2 separate regions of the Homo sapiens genome follow, and region 2 is linked to region 1. The links come from fine-mapping of genetic effects on gene expression. Tissue or cell type: subcutaneous fat. Region 1 holds a variant in brackets; the other region holds the start of a gene. All regions are shown on one strand. Distances are from middle to middle.

Region 1 (8,268 bases):
GCAAACATTTTCTCTTGCCAGCCCAGAAGCATGACTACGTGGTAGTCATACTGTATGGACAAAGAAATGAACATTGACTAAATCAACAGCCTGCTGACGTTCAGAAGTTACACTGTCCTTGAACCTGTGAGTGAATGAGGTTCCTCTGACACAGAAAGAGTTTTCCATAGCTAGTAATAAAGGACGGATTGCTAAAGCACACATTGACTATTCAAAAATCTCCAGTAGTCATCCATTGACTAGAAAACAGATTTCAGACACTCCACATCATGACATTCAAGAACTCTGGGATTTGGCTCTGTTTTTCCTGGCATCACTTCTTCCTCTCTGCCATTATACCAACTCTTTCCAGAGAAACTGAACTTCTCTAAGTTTTAAAACTTACCACCCGCCTATTCAAGAACACACACATAGGTCCAATTCTCCAGTCATGCCCCAGTTCATTAGTTCACCCATTTACTTATTCAGCAAATATTTATTTTGCACCAACTCTGTATCAGACACTAAACAGAATACCTACGTGGTCAAGACAGACAAAGGCCCTCCTTTCTATAACAAATGTTGACATTCTCATAGAAGGGGACAAATCCCAAGTAAATAAATAAGTAAGGAAAGTAATTTCAGATTGTATTAAGTGCTATGAAGAAATAATGAACAAAGTTGTGAGCACTGACTGGGACTGGGCTGGAAGGAGAACTCCTTTAGATTCATTCATCAAAGATTTCTCTTCAATGTAATTTTTGAGCTGAGACCTAAAAGTTGAGAAGCCAGGCATGAACCGAACAAGAGGAAGGGCATTCCAGGCCAAAGAAAGTCAAGTGAAAGGTGCCTGAAGTGGAAAAAGGCTTGATGTGTTTTCAAAGCAGAGCAGAGATCAAGGAGGGAGATTTTAGAAGTTAGAGAAGGACGGATCATTTGTATAGGCTATGGTAGAGTTTAAATGTCATTCTAAGTGCACAAGGAAACAGTAAAAAATGTTAAGGAGGGATATAATCAGATCTGATACACATTTTAAAATGATAATTCAAACTTCTTTGTGGAAAACAGATCTTCCTAGAGGGCAGAAGAGCACTGCAGTAATCAGTCAGAGATGATGCTTTTACTTTGCAAAATAATGCAGCACAGCGTAAGTCAGTTGCCTGTTTTACTTTCCTTCCATTTCCTGCCTCGATTCCTTTCTCTTCGTCTATTTTGCCCATCCTTGCTCTAACAATGTTTCTCAATTCAGAAGGCAAACACGTAACACAAAAGGAAACGCTTCTAAAATTTCCAAAGATTTTGTGTGGAAAATATGTAAGTTCCCTATTTTCTGAATTAGGATATGTAGCTCAAATATTTTGAATACGAAATTAAGAACAACTTGTAAGGCACGTGCAACAAAGAAAAGGGGCTAATAATTCTAAAGCACATTAAAACATGGAAATACCACTATGTACTTCTCAAATAGAATATTTGGCAGCACTTTTTACTCTTTTGAAGGTTTTTTGTACAGAGTAAAACATCAAGCGTAAAATAAGTAATTTCCATTATTCTCAAACATCAACATTTTCAATAAATGAATGAATTCTTTTTCTACTTTCGTCACCCTAACTTTGGGAATTTATCCATTACATTTTAATGAAGTGCTATGGTTTTTGCCTTCGTTTTTTTACTTAAATTTCACAATATAGTAACTTTAGAGATTTTTAACTCCCAAGTGACAAGCATGTAAGCTGACACTGAAGACATCCTGTTTCTAAGCCACAGCGCAAGTTCTAAGCTCTAGCTAGCAGCATAAGCACAACAGCTAGAGAGAAAGGAAGTCATCAAATTACAGCATGTATATCACACTAAACAACCAAATTCATCCTTTGATGAACCTGTAAGATGTGTGTGTGTATACACTCATATACATACACATGTCACAAGGCACATTTGTAGACATTTCATTACTTGCTAAAAAGTCTCCAAATTTACTCGAATTTTTGCCAACTTGAGTTAATTTTTCTTCATAGAACCAAATAAATAAATACATTTCTTACAATATGAATAATATATTAAAAGAATATTCTTAAAATTTACAAAACATCAAATTTTGAAATAAAATTTGGAAGCAGTTTGTTCAACCTACTGAATTAAACGAAATCCTGTAAATTACAGTATTTAAATGTAAAGTATGGGCTTATGAATGAGAATTTAATCTTATTTTAGGACATTCCTAAACATTTCTATATAGCAGAGTCAGATTTTTGGAGTAAAATAATAGCCATATAGCAAATAACTTTGCATTTTATTTCACAGTTACTGATGATGTTAATACATTAATATAACTTGTAAAAAGATCCATATTTGAAATTTTCACAATTCAGTTATAAGAAAAAACAGTTTATATCTCCTGACAAATTTATAAAATTAATTTTAACATCCATAGAGAACTACCTAATATATTCTGTTGCACCTTTTGCCTTGACTACTGGGAAGCTCAGAATTGCATTCACTGTCATTTACAGTAACTATATTATATTATGTTGGGTTTCTTTCTTTCTTTTTTCTTTTCTTTTTTTTTTTTTGAGTTGGAATCTCGCTCTGTTGCCAGGCTGGAGTGCAATGGCATGGTCTCAGCTCACTGCAATCTCTGCCTCCTGGGTTCGAGCAATTCTCCTGCCTCAGCCTCCCAAGCAGCTGGGATTACAGGCACGCGCCAACACACCCGGCTAATTTTTGTATTTTTAGTAGAGATGGAGTTTCACCGTGTTGGCCAAGCCAGTCTTGAACTCCTGATCTCGTGATCCGCCCACCTTGGCCTACCAAAGTGCTGGGATTACAGGCGTGAGCCACCGTGCCCGGCATTATGTTGGGTTTCTAATGTGTCAAACTAAAGCTGGCATATTTCACTTTTTTCTTTGAGTGTTTTTGTTTCCATTTCAAAAATCTAACTATACAAATAGTTGCCTTAGCAAGGAAACTCAGGGACATACAAAAGGTACAACCTATTTAAAATATATACTCCCATAGTAAGGGAGATTTTTATACAATATATTCCTTTTCTACATCTCAAGGCAGAACATTTTAAAATTTCTAGCTTTGAAGAACACATGTTAATTCACAAGTTAGGTGGCCATGCTAATGTAGAAAATGAACTTATCTTTGCATTTATGGAATGTCACTCTAAAATACAGTCATAGGTATAAGTAACTATTTATCGTTTTCAAAATGCAATTTGGTAAGGATTAAATGGAAATGACGTTTCTGAAGAGTAATATTTCCTCTGTGGAGTAAGTTGGAAAGGAAGAATGAACATGCTTTCTTAAAGTGCTTTCTTTTGCCAAACTGCTTATGCTCTTTCCCTCAATTACTTATGGTCCTGATTCTGATTAATAGACTCCTGCTTTTTTAAACACTCTAGTGAAGTTTTAGTCTTGATGTTTACATTTTAGTGTTAAACACTAATGGTGAATAGCCATGGCCAAATGAGGATACTCTTAGGAGCTCCGTGAAACAACAGATTCCATCAGCTTTCTAGAAGATTTCTTATCTAAATAGAAACCATCTTTCTGGGTAAGGAAAACATTAAAGTGAAGACACAGAACTTTTAAACATACTATTTCCGATTAGAGACTATTAAAAATGAAATGCCCTTGATGTTAAAAAAAAAAAAAAAACTATCTAAGTATTAGCCAGAAATAAGTGTGTGCTTTGAATTAGACAAAATCGCTCAAGTCATCTGTGTATTGTCTAACTTCCTACCAAGGGAACAGCCAAAATTTGAATGGCTGCTGGGTAAGAAGGAGAGCACATTATCTTAGTGATGGAAGGTAGACAAGTCGTCTCTGCCTCGGGTCGAATGAAGTTAGTGTGCATGGTCTATTGGTATGTTACTGTTGTTTTTGGTTCTAAATGCTAGGACAGGGTAAGACTGAATAACTGGGCAGGGATCTTAACCTCTGCAGTG[T/G]TTGTCCAGCACTCTCCCTTGAGGTGTCAGATGATGACTAATGGTTACCGAAAAGCAGTGTGGGCCAAGACCTTGCTGACATTTGTTTCCTGCTACTGTTTTTGGAATCTGCTTTAATCCTTTTCAAAGTTTATTCTGAAGGTAGTTGTCATTAATTTCATACCTTAGCTTTGCCAGCATCCCATGACTATGGTAGTAGTCATTACTTTAACATCTCAAGAATCTAGTTCATGTCAGATTTTGAAAAATAAATAAATAGAAATCCAATGTTTCTCTATGTGAGTACAGAACTCTACTCCTCTTATACATGACCTCTGTATTGGTGAGCACAATCTAACTTGTGAGGTTGCCAATAATAAAAATTGCATTTGTCATATAGGTTGTATGTTTTATATAGTTGGCAAAGCATTTTATAATATTAGTAATAAAAATAAGAGAAATAAAAATGGCCATTTATTGAGTTTGTCTGCCCAAGAGGACAGCTTCAAAAAGCTAGATGAGCCCTTACCTCTACTTCAGGACCAGCGCAGAAAGTGGCTGGTAATTATTGACAAGGGTACGTTATGATACAAACGATAATTTATTTGTTTATTTATTTCGAGACGGAGTCTCGCTCTGTCGCCCAGGCTGGAGTGCAGTGGCGGGATCTCGGCTCACTGCAAGCTCCGCCTCCCGGGTTCACGCCATTCTCCTGCCTCAGCCTCCCGAGTAGCTGGGACTACAGGCGCCCGCCTCCACGCCCGGCTAATTTTTTGTATTTTTAGTAGAGACGGGGTTTCACCGTCTTAGCCGGGATGGTCTCGATCTCCTGACCTTGTGATCCGCCCGCCTCGGCCTCCCAAAGTGCTGGGATTACAGGTGTGAGCCACCGCGCCTGGCCACGAACAATAATTTATAGCACCAAGTCAAAACTTGTCCAGGGACAGAGTTCCCCTTAATGAACTTTAGGATACAAAAACAAATTTTGTTGTGATAACACTTGACTCATATTTTGCCTGGTTTTCATTATAATAAAGGGGGAAAAACGTTGTCTTTCCCGAGTGACTCAATTAAAAAAAAAATTTTAGCTGGCCATCAATTTACTACAGCTAAAAGTCAGCTTCCTAATTGTTCACTACCACAGTTATGTCTCTACAACCAATAGCAGCCAGATCACATTTTTTCCTCAAACTGTATGTCACAATCATTTGAATTTGTCACAAATCACTTGTCACAAATCATTTGTCAAAAATCATATGTCACAAATCATTTGAATTTGTCAATTATGATAGCAAAATGGCAATTAACTATGGATTTCTGTTTCTAAGATAGCTTTTTGAAAATCAGCAGTGAAATAGCTTAATGCAAGCCTGGGAATGATTTTTCTGATCTTGAGAATATGAAAAAAAATTTCAAAAGTTTGTTGCTGTGTCTGCAACATTGTTTTGTGAAATGACAAAGCCTCAGACATCAAATGCTTGTCACAAGCACTGGGAATCAAAGTATGGGTTTATTTAGTGTTTCTCCTGTAAGTCCACATGTTTCCTGAGTAGACTGCATGGGGGCATATAGATCAGGGAGAAGAAGTAATCATTTGGGCCCTGGCCTGTTTTAAATTGTAACAATGCTAGGATAACACTGAAAATAGCTTGGCAAATTTGATTATTTGAGGAGGCTTTTAGGGTTTAGTGAATGTACAAATAAATTCTGTCATTATAATTTCCAACATGCTTGGTCTCCCTTCCATTTTGTGTTTATGAAACAAACTTAACATTCCACTCAAATCGCTTTACTGTGAGCAATGCAAGAAAAGCAAACAAGTAAATCAAAAGCCTTTCCACTTGTACCTTTTTGGTATAAATACGCCACGTTCTTCTGTGAAATATAAACTCTTGCTTTTATAGGAGTGGGAAGATTTACTTCAAAAGTTATTTCCAAACACTCATTTCAGCTCATGCAAAGGAATGCATCGTGGCTGCAAGCCAAGGGGAATTTTATTCCAAAGACCCCTCCTGGAGGAATCTTTAAGAGGAGACTAAGGTCTCTGCAGGTATGTCACCCATCAAGCTCACTAATGGGTACTCCTAACCTGACAGGCCACATGCTCTTACTAAAGAGATGGTTTTCATGATAGAGTTCTTTCATTTCAATGTTTCATACATTCCTCTGGCATCACACCTGCACTTTTATAAGTATCCAGCCACAGCAATAACCTTCAGGCTGTACAGTATATGAAATATCCCTACCATATATCCAGGTTAAATATAAACTCAAACATTTTCTTTGTACCTCAGCCAAGAGACTATATTAGAAAGAAAGTTCTAGTCCATGTAAATTCTAGAGAAAGCTAAAGTTTGGGAGAGATCTACTTACTGACTAAACATATCGAGTAGCATCAGTCCTGTTATTTTTGTGGCACTTGCATTGATCTTATAAATACTAATTGCAATTAAGTCTATAGAAGACTAGGGCTGGATAGACTATTTATATCATATAGTCCCACTGTTTCATTTTACAGGTGGATAAAGAACCTGCCTAGAATATTAGCAGCAGAAGTATAATTAGAAGCTACCTCTTCGATTAAAACAAACATTCACAAATAGACACTTGGGATTTTAGTCACCACTATTTCAAAGTAGAGGTGAGTTTGTGCATGTCTTGTTTATGTAACAGGTTTGCTGGTCACTTCAGTCATAGAACTGTGATAGATGACAAGTGTCTGAGGATACAAAATAAATGTGACAGGATCCTAATCTTTTAGTAAATATAGCCCAGTTAGGACAAGAAGACATACACAGACTATTGATATCAAGAACTGGGAATTTACAAGCTTTTAGGGCAGAGTGGGTGGGTGGCAGGCAATATAATGCTGTAAAAATTAGGAGAAATGTGAAATCACAGTAACCTGGAAGGTTCAGGAAAGGACTCACTGAGAAAGTAGGACTGAGGGTCTTGAAAAACAGAAAACATGTGGATGTCCCAGCTGCAGAATAGTAATGTTACAGCAGAAATGTCTCAGATCTATTTATAAGATAGTGTTTTGGATAACGTGGCTCATGTGGAAGGTTTCGATTCCAGAGTAATGGGAAACAAGGTGGAACAGGACTGGATTATGGGGATCTTTGATACTAAGGTGAGTTGTTTTGCTTTTTATTCCCGGAAAAGGGGAAACAGATAGATATATCTATGCATTATCTATATGTGCATGTTTGTGAATGTAGTCATAAAAATATATCTCTCTTATTCCAAAAAGGGCTGTGAAAAGTAAAAACTAAAATACGTGAGGTAAAATTTCACTTATTGGCAGGGAGAACTTCCTCATTGGCAGGGAGGAGAGTGTAAGACTGGAGGCCTATGATAAACTTTATAATATCCTTTTAGTTGTGGAAACATTAGCCTGGTTGTTGTAGGACTAAGTGGGAGTAAAGGGATACTGGAGAAGAGGCAAAATTTTGGGGAAACCCTTGTACTTCTCTTTCTCATATAACAGAGAAGTAAGTTGGTCAAAGGGAAATGCAAAGCTAAAGGCATGCTTAAAATTTCAAAACTAGTTAACTTGGAATATGGTGGTAATAGCAATGGAAATAGTATTTTTTAGGTGGCTACAAATTTTGGTTGTGGGTTGGAGAAATTTTTCATTTCACTTTGAGCTAGTTTGTGTTTGATATAATGAAAAGGCATCCAAATAAGTACATCTTCCTAGAAGTCAAGCATCTTGACAAGAGATCTGATCAACCAAATATCGAGCAAAGTCTTCACTTGAGACATACTTGAGGTCTTTTCCCAGACAGAAAGCCAGAGAGAAGAGTTTCCTAAATGAAGGAGCAATCTATTATTATAAATAAGTTAGAGCAACCAAGAAGGACAGAAAAAAAAATGTTTATTTTGATGTTTGTCAGCCCTTACCTTGCTAAGAAATGTATTGCCCTAGATGTTCATAAGACTTATAAAAATGCTTTTATAATTAACAAAGGGTATGATGAACTGTAGTAAGAGTTAAACACATTTCTTTAGGATACAGCGTTCAGATTTTTTTTTTTTTATGTACTACTGTAACAGTTAATCTGTGTAAATGGGACACTGTATTTCACATTTTTCAAACTCTTTCGGCCAAAAACCTTCTAGTCTGCTTCAGACTGGCTCAAAAAACTAATCAGCTGCCTGAGACTCTATTTGTTGACACACATATATATATATATATATATAGTAAACTTCAGTAACGTTGATGAATGACTTTAATTATAAAATAATGACCTAAGTGATCCCAGAATCCCGAATGCAGATATTGAAATAGCTCTTCATCTGCTGTGACATCTGCTTCCCTAATATACTTACATGAATAAGATAAGTATAGAGTG
Region 2 (8,000 bases), 120 kb after region 1:
AATGGAGAAATGGTATACTTTTGGGAGTTGTAGATGGAGTGAAGGAAGAACTCACAGAAATAGGTGCATTTATATGTTAGGATAGTTATGATTTGAACATGTAGAAGAGGAAGAGGAAAGGTCTACTATTTTAACTAATAAAAAGAATAAATGTATCTCCAATGGTTACTGAGAATCAGGCCCTATGCTGGGTGCTTTACATCACTCATCTCTTAAACTTAACTTAAAATAGGAACGTAGGCCCCATTATTTCCCCATTTTGCAGATGGGAGAACTAAAGCTGAAAAATCTTATGGAATTTGCTGACAGTCACACAGATAGAGACTGGGAAAACTAAAAATTAATCCCATATCTATCCATTCTAAAGCCTCTACACCTCCCAAGAAAGACTAAACAAGGCCAAGAGATGCAGAAGTGTCAGGCATAAGACAAAGCACTCATTGTTACCTTTGGCTGGAAGGCGGCAGAGTTGGGGAAGATAGGACTGGGAAGGTTGAGAGGGAGCCAGGCTGTGGATGCTATGGTAACCTATTTGAGCTTTATATGGTAGCAAGAGGAAGTCCACTGAAGGTTTCTGAGCAGAGAATGCAATGATAAAAGCTATATATTACGTCTTAGGCTATGAATCATGGGTTATCTCTAACAATCTTAAATGATAAAAATCAAAAGTTTGAAGAGTCTCACACTGCCTTTAAACAAAAAGTATGGCTAGGAGCCACGTGAAACTACTGCCTCATAGCTGTCTAGGCAAATTCCCAACATGCCAGGCCTTGAAAAAATTCAACAGAGCAAGGCTCATGAAAGATGTAGTGAGTATCTGTTACCCTGCAAGACAAGGATATACTCATCCCTGGAGCTGTCCAAATCTGGCATAAGGATAGCCCTGGGGTATGCAGCATTCTCTGGGACCTGATGTGAACCTACAGGCCAGTGGGCACAGGAAAGCTATCGGAATCAGTTATTGGAAGAATCCAGACTCCTGACTCCCAGCCCTGTGCTCATTTCAACAGATCATTTGGTATGCCACTAAATATGTGACACTGAGCAAACCTCTTTACCTTTCTATTAAACATTTAGAAACATCCCTTTCCTCATCTGTGAACCAAGAAATTGAACTCATTGGGTCTCAGATTTCATGATTTTTCATCCTTCTTCCCCTCCAACACACCAGCACAAATAATCTGCTTTCATCGGAGGCCCACTCAGCAGGATTTGGGGGAGCAGTAACATCTCCTGAGAGCTTCTATAGTTGGAAAATCTCTTAGCTGAGAATAATTGTACTTTCTTAGCTTTATGAAGCATTCCAGTCCTCCCTCACTGAATTTGATCTAGTCCAGGATTATCCTTTTAAGTGCAAACTGGATCACTGATGTCAAAAGCAATTAAACAATACAGGGCACCATGACCATATCCAGTCACATGGCAGGGAGTTCCTCATCCTAACATCAGGGAATCAATGCCCTAGAATCCAGACCTGTCAGAGCTCCAGGATGTTCTTTTATTATTTGAGAGGTTTTTTTTTTTTTTTTCAGTCTCAAAAGATGGTGTGTGTGCGTATTCATAAGTGAAATTCCAAGGAAGCCAAGCAAAGGCTAAAACTGGGGCTTTCTTGGGGGCTGGGGGAGGGGGGTGAAGGGGAGAGAAAAACCATGATGCAGTTTTAGAGGTTCACAAACTCCAACTTTCAAAAACGAATTTCCAAAAGGATAAAATATTTTCTTCTTAAGAGATTATCAATTATGTAGATCCAAGAAACTGCCAGAGAAGAGAAGTAGGGAGAAGACGCAAGACTTGTTCTGCTCTCAGAAATATTGCTGGTAGAACTGAAATGAACACACGAAGCCACGGATCTTTGAAAGAACTTCTTAAACTTCATTAATTCATCAGACAACACCCAGTAATTCACTTACAGAGTGTGACTTGTTCCTGTAATCAATTCACCACAAAAATTTGAGGTATGTTAAACCTATGGCTTCACCTTCTTTGACCTCCAACCAGGGAACCGGAGGGGAAATGACTGACAAATGCTGACATTAACAGTGAAGCAAGCAGAATTCCAGAACCAGGGAAACCCACATATTGAGAGTTACCTCATGGTTATTTGTTTTTATAGGACTGACCTTGACTATGTATTCTTTCTCCAGATATGAGAAAGGAAAATATGTCCAAAATTTGTGACAGAATTAACAGCAGGACTGCTAACCTTACATCCGAGACTCCTGGGAGGACCAAGCTACAGGGACCACCCATGTTCTGCTCTGGGAACTAGCTTATGATAACTTCACCGTCAGACACTCAAGGTCCCCTCTCTGCCTGGTGTTGACTGATTTCTGTAAGACCACCAGAAATTGTGTAAATCACTTAGAAGAAATTAGAGTTATACTTCATACATGCCTTAGCAATCAGGAGGCACAAGCAAGCAGAAGACAAGTCCTGGAAAGGATTCAGACTTTCTCCTCATTTCTTGCCCAAGATACTAGTCCAGTGAACTCCAACACCTTAGCCACAACACAAGGAAGTTAAGATTTATACTTAGTTGAAATTTCGTGCACTCCACCAACAGTTGCCAATCTGAGAGAACCCTACCACAGATGAGGGCAGAGATCTTGTGGGATGAGCTGCAAAAGGCATTTGGATATTTGAACATGGTATGTACTTTCATCTCCTTAGAAACACAGCCTGGTCCAGCCGTGCTCACGCCTATAATCCCAGCACTTTTGGAGGCGGAGACGGACGGGTCACCTGAGGTCAGGAGTTCGAGACCAGCCTGGCCAACATGGTGAAACCCCTTCGCTACTAAAAATACACAAACACACACAAAAATTAGCCCGGCATGGTGGTGCACACCTGTAATCCCAGCTACTCAGGAGGCTGAGGCAGGAGAATCGTTTGAGCCCGGGAGGCGGAGGTTGCAGTGAGCCCAGATTGCACCACTGCACTCCAGCCTGGGTGACAAGAGCAAAACTCCGTCAAAAAAAGAAAAGAAAAGGAAGAGAGGAGAGGAGAGGGGAGGGGAGGGGAGGGGAGGGGAGGGGAGGGGAGAGGAGAGGAGAGGAGAGGAGGGGAGAGGAGAGGAGAAAAGAAAGCAAAGCAGAGCACAGCAGAGCAGAGCAGAGCAGAGCAGCCTGGTCCATTGGCTAGCATGAACAACCAACCCCAAAGCTTCCACTTTTCCGGTAGCTGTAGAAGATACATTGATATATTAACACAGAAAACGAGAAAGAAGGGTTAAGAGTGTCAATTTGAAGGAAAATTGGGTGAGTGGCAGTGGAGGTTGAAGAACTCATTCAAATTCCCTCTGCTGAAGCATCCAGAGAGATCTTCAAAGTTATGGATGTGAACAATATGTCAATATGCATACTATACCTCCTGACGCTAACTTTAGGCAAGTTAGGCATACAAAAATAAAACTAGAAAGAGAGGACTGATGCCTAGTAACCCAGTCCAATGCATACCACCAGAAAACGTAAGCCCTCTATCAAAGGAGAAAAAGTCAACACTTAGGGTGGATACTTTGACTGAGACTGCCTCAAACAGCTTCGCCTCCTCCAAGCATACCTTCTCTTTAACCTTTGATCTTTACTTTTTTGTAGGTGAAGGGGAGAAGAGAGAGAAATTTGTTTTGGAACAGGTCTTTCAACTTCACTATTTTGAAGATTCTTTTAAACTTCAGAGAAAAGGTGCAGACTACAGTATAGGAAGGATAAGAGAGAGGAGACAAAAGAAATGGGAAGTGAGAAGGGAGAAGAGAAATGGGAAGTGAGAAGGGAGAAGAGAAATGGGAAGTGAGAAGGGAGAAGATAAATTGTACTAGATTCAGCTTTGTCAATGCCTCATGAATTAGTGCTGAATGGGTACTTTAAACATCACCTTATCAGGACAGTCCTCTTTTTGAGAGAGAAGCTGGCTCTGAGAAAGAGAGAAAAAGACTTGTCCAAGTTAATCAATTGTTGCATACAGAGATAGGGCCACCAGATATCTGGATTCACAAACTGAGACACATATTTAAGGAGACCCAATTCGAAAGACTGAACAGAGATGACGGGGGCAGCAGGGAGGGCTCAAGAGAGCGTGTGAGAGCCGCAGGGGCTTTGCAGTGGAGGAGCGCTCTGTGGGTACCTTGATGTAGGCCCGCTGCAGGTAGTTGTAGGGCACTCTGCGCTGGAAGTCGCTGCGCACATCCTCGCTGACGCGGTGGCGGGATGCGGGGCCCCCGAGGCGCTGGGTCTCACAGCTGCGATAACAGCGCGCCCGCCCCAACAAGGAGCGGAAAAGGGGCAGCTCAGCGCCGGGGCCCTCGCCGGGGGGCGGGGGCGGGAGCGGGTGGCGCGCCGCGCAGTGGCGGGCACAGCGCGTGCGGATTTCCCGCAGGCGCCGGTGGCTGCGCAGCGCCGCTTCCAAGTCGCGCACCGCTCGCTCGTAGTCTCCGCTGTAGTAGGCGGCCGCGCCGCTGGCGTAGAGCAGGTCGAAGGGCTGCAGAGGCCCGGGCTCCAGCTCCAGCTCCCGGCGTGGGCTGTCCGGGGGGCCGCCCCACAGTGGCGGCGGCAGTAGCAGCGGCAGCAGCAGCAGCAGCGGCGGCGCCCAGATGCGCTCCCGCATCCTCCGCCTCAGAGAGGCGCGGGACGGTTACGCTCGAGAGGGCTTCGGGGCACCTCGCGTCCGGGTCCCCTCTCCCACCTTCCCTCGGGGAAGCGCGCCGACTCCGCCGCGATCTGGCCGCTCCGCGAGCCCCAGGTGACCGCCGGCGCTCCGCGTACTGAGAGGCGGAGGCCGTGCCTGGCCAGCCGCTCTTAAAGGGACGCCCACAGCTCACACGCTCCTCCTGCTGCCTGAGACTCCGAGAGCCGCTCTCCCAGGCTCCCCGCTGCAGCGGCGGGGCTGCCAGGGGCGGCACACTCCAGCGCCAGCCAGAGAGCTAGCGCCGCTTGAGGCCGGCCGGGGACGAGGCGCTTTACACGTGAGCTCCCTTCTGGTTGTACAAGTGGATAGTATTAGTCTTCTTTTTGGGAAATAAAGAAAATCCAGCTTAGCAAGGTTAGGGCCTTAATCATATTCTGGAATCTCTGTATGGCCTCGCAGTTTGCAGAGTGCTTCACCTTCTAAATGAAGCCTGGAGCGCCATTTCAGACTGAATCAAACCGTAGATGCCATGTGTACCTACGCAACAAATCTGCGCATTCTGCACGTGTATCCCGGAACGTAAAGTTAAAAAAAAAAAGAATAAATAAATAAATAAATAGAAAAAAAACCCATAGAGGCCCTGTAGGCCCAGATGCGGAGGTTTAAGAAGATAAGTGATTTGCCTAAATGCATAGAGCTGAGAAGTGGCAAAGGACGGACCCAACCCAGGGCCTTTAGAACCAAAGCTTACCGCTTCTTCTCTTGGGGAAGGTTTCTCCCTTACCTTTTCGTCCAACTTGGTGTGGATGTGTGTCCGGGCATTGGATCAGGGCGCTGGGCCAGGGGAAGAACAATATATAGCCTGCCTTTCCTGTGCAGCCCGTGGTTTTACAGGGCCCAGAGAACCTTTGGAGGCAGGAGGAGCTGTACTCGCATTCTGGCTCCGTCCGTTTACCAGCTGTGTGACCTTGGCAACTGAGGGCCTCAGTTTCCTCATCTCCTAAACAGCCAGACGCCTAACACGTAAAATGCTATTCAGAAAAAAATTCTTGCTGTGGGCCAGGTGCAGTGGCTCACCCCTGTAATCCCAGCACTTTGGGAGGCCAAGGCGGGTGGATCACCTGAGGTCAGGAGTTCGAGACCAGCCTGGCCACCATGGCAAAACCCCGTCTCTACTAAAAATACAAAAATTAGCTGGGCGTGGTGGCACGTGCCTGCAGACCCAGCTACTCAGGAGGCTGAGGCAGGATAATTGCTTGAACCTGGGAGGTGAAGGTTGCAGTGAGCTGAGATCATGCAGCCTGGGTGACAGAGTGAGACTCCGTCTCAAAAACAAAAAAAACAAAGAAAAAGAAAAGAGAGGAGAGGAGGGGAGGGGAGGGGACGGGAGAGGAGAGGGAAATTCTTATTCTAAGAGTTGAACAAAGAGGCAATTTAGTATATCCCTTACCTCAAGGAATTAAGCAATCTGCATCAATCTAGGAATGAGAAAGCTGACAGAAATGGTTGCCAGATTCCAAACGACTAGCTGGAGGCTTCCTGTTCCTCCCCTTCTCCTCTGTCACGAATACATTCTTAGCCAAGGTGTTCCCCTCTTTCGTGTTCCTTGGCTTCACACTCTCACAAGAATATTGGTTGGACCCTGGATCCCAGCCTGCCTCCTGGAGGCATTTCTGTGGTCTTCTAGTGCCTGTGAGAATCTCATCAGTCTTTCAGCCCCTGCAATGGTGAGCAGAGGGACAGGCAATGGGAAAAAGACTCACGCATGTATCTAGTTGCTATGATTTTTCCGAAGAAGGCTTTTATGTGGAATCACCACTACGCTGAGGGGCTTGCCAGAGATTCATGCTGATTCCTTCATTCATTTTGTTAGGTTTGACCACTCAGGCCATGAACAGCCCTGGCTGTGTAATTCCAAGAGACACTGATGAATCATGCTCTTTTTTTTTCCCACCAAACGTTACTAATTCGGCTCATATCACTGATGAAAAAGCTCCAGTTTGGAGCTGAATGTATATTGAATGCCTTGGATGGTCAGTGTTCCAGAATTAGCACATCAGTCATCTGCCCAGACTTTTTCTCTAGAGATTGTCTGTTTTCAGATAAAGATTTTGGAGTCTAGTCCAGGGTTATCAGTCCACTTGTGGAAGGTTTTGAAGCACATCAGGATAGGAACTCCTGCTGTGGGACTGAGGGCAAAGTGCCAGGATACCTTGCTACATTCTATTTGTACATTTGGTGACATTTCTACATCATTTAATATATTTCAATTAAATTAACAATTTTTGATGCCTACTCTTAAAGTAAATATTCTAGGTGAAAGAGAAGATAAGTCAGGATTCTTACCTTTGGGAAGCTCACAGTACTGTATAGGAAACAAATTTGATATATATAATGTATACAGCTATAATACAAGGTAGAATGTGGTACGTGTTAGATTAGATTGAAAGTGTTGGCCGGGCGCAGTGGCTCACACTTGTGATCCCAGCACTTTGGGAGGCCGAGGCAGGTGGATCACCTGAGCTCAGGAGTTGGAGACCAGCTTGGCCAACATGGTGAAATTCCGTCTCTACTGAAAATACAAAAATCAACTGGGCGTGGTGGCAGGCACATTTAATCCCAGCTACTCAGGAGGCTGAGGCAGGAGAATCACTTGAACCCGGGATGCAGAGGTTGCAGTCAGCCAAGATCGCGCCATTGTACTCCAGCCTGAGCCACAGAGTGAGACTCAGTCTCAAAAAACAAAAAGAAAAAAAAAAAAGAAGAAGAAAGAAAAAAGAGCTCTGGGAACACAGAGGTTACAAAGATAGCTTCTGGCTAGAAGGATCTAAAAAGACTTAGGGAAATAATTGGCATTAGCACACAGTCAATAGCCTATAGAATGCAACCACATCCTACTGATTGCCAAATTGGCCAGGTTCTTTCAAGCCTCTTGTATGTCCTACTACCTTATTTCTTATATCTTACTACAAGTAGTAAGTAAGTAATATGCCTTGTATTACTACCTTACGTACAATCTCTGCCTGACTTGAGAGAAACTATTCATTGACAACTCAAATTTGCTTGAACATTAGAATCACCTAAGAAGTGTCTGGCTTCTGCTCTGAAAGATTCTGATTTATTGGTCTGGGATATGACCTGAGCGATGGGATTTTTAGAAGTTTCCCAGGTGATTATAATACGAAGCCAAGGTTGAGAACCACAGGTCTACAGCTAATGCCACAGCCCAAAGAATAAGTCTATGAGTTGGGGTTCCAGGTGCTGTGTAGAATTCATGAGTAGGTAGGGTTTGGAGAATAGGTAGGGTTTTGTGTAATCCCCCAGATATTCCCTCCCAGGAAAGCCAATCTGATCTGCTTTTTAAGGCTGGATCAGGACAA

What was found. PIP is the estimated chance that this variant, and not a neighbour inherited with it, causes the effect.
Region 2: P3H2 starts here. The variant in region 1 is fine-mapped to the expression of P3H2 in subcutaneous fat (GTEx, PIP above 0.99). The same link has a PIP of 0.9 or more in pancreas.

The regions. Positions count from the first base shown.
Region 1 is chr3:189,999,871-190,008,138 of GRCh38, forward strand. The region is part of intron 1 of P3H2 (prolyl 3-hydroxylase 2); the gene reads right to left. Among named protein-coding and RNA genes, the nearest start is that of P3H2, 120 kb to the right of the region's middle. The variant T/G (reference allele first, on the strand shown) is at 3,932.
Region 2 is chr3:190,116,133-190,124,132 of GRCh38, forward strand. It overlaps P3H2 (prolyl 3-hydroxylase 2), which reads right to left and starts at 4,765. Exons shown (of 15, transcript NM_018192.4): 1 at 4,120-4,765. The coding sequence starts at 4,599. P3H2-AS1 (P3H2 antisense RNA 1) reads left to right here and starts at 4,832. Exons shown (of 4, transcript NR_126419.1): 1 at 4,832-4,957. RefSeq lists silencers at 4,242-4,321, 4,532-4,761, 4,708-5,002 and an enhancer at 4,972-5,151.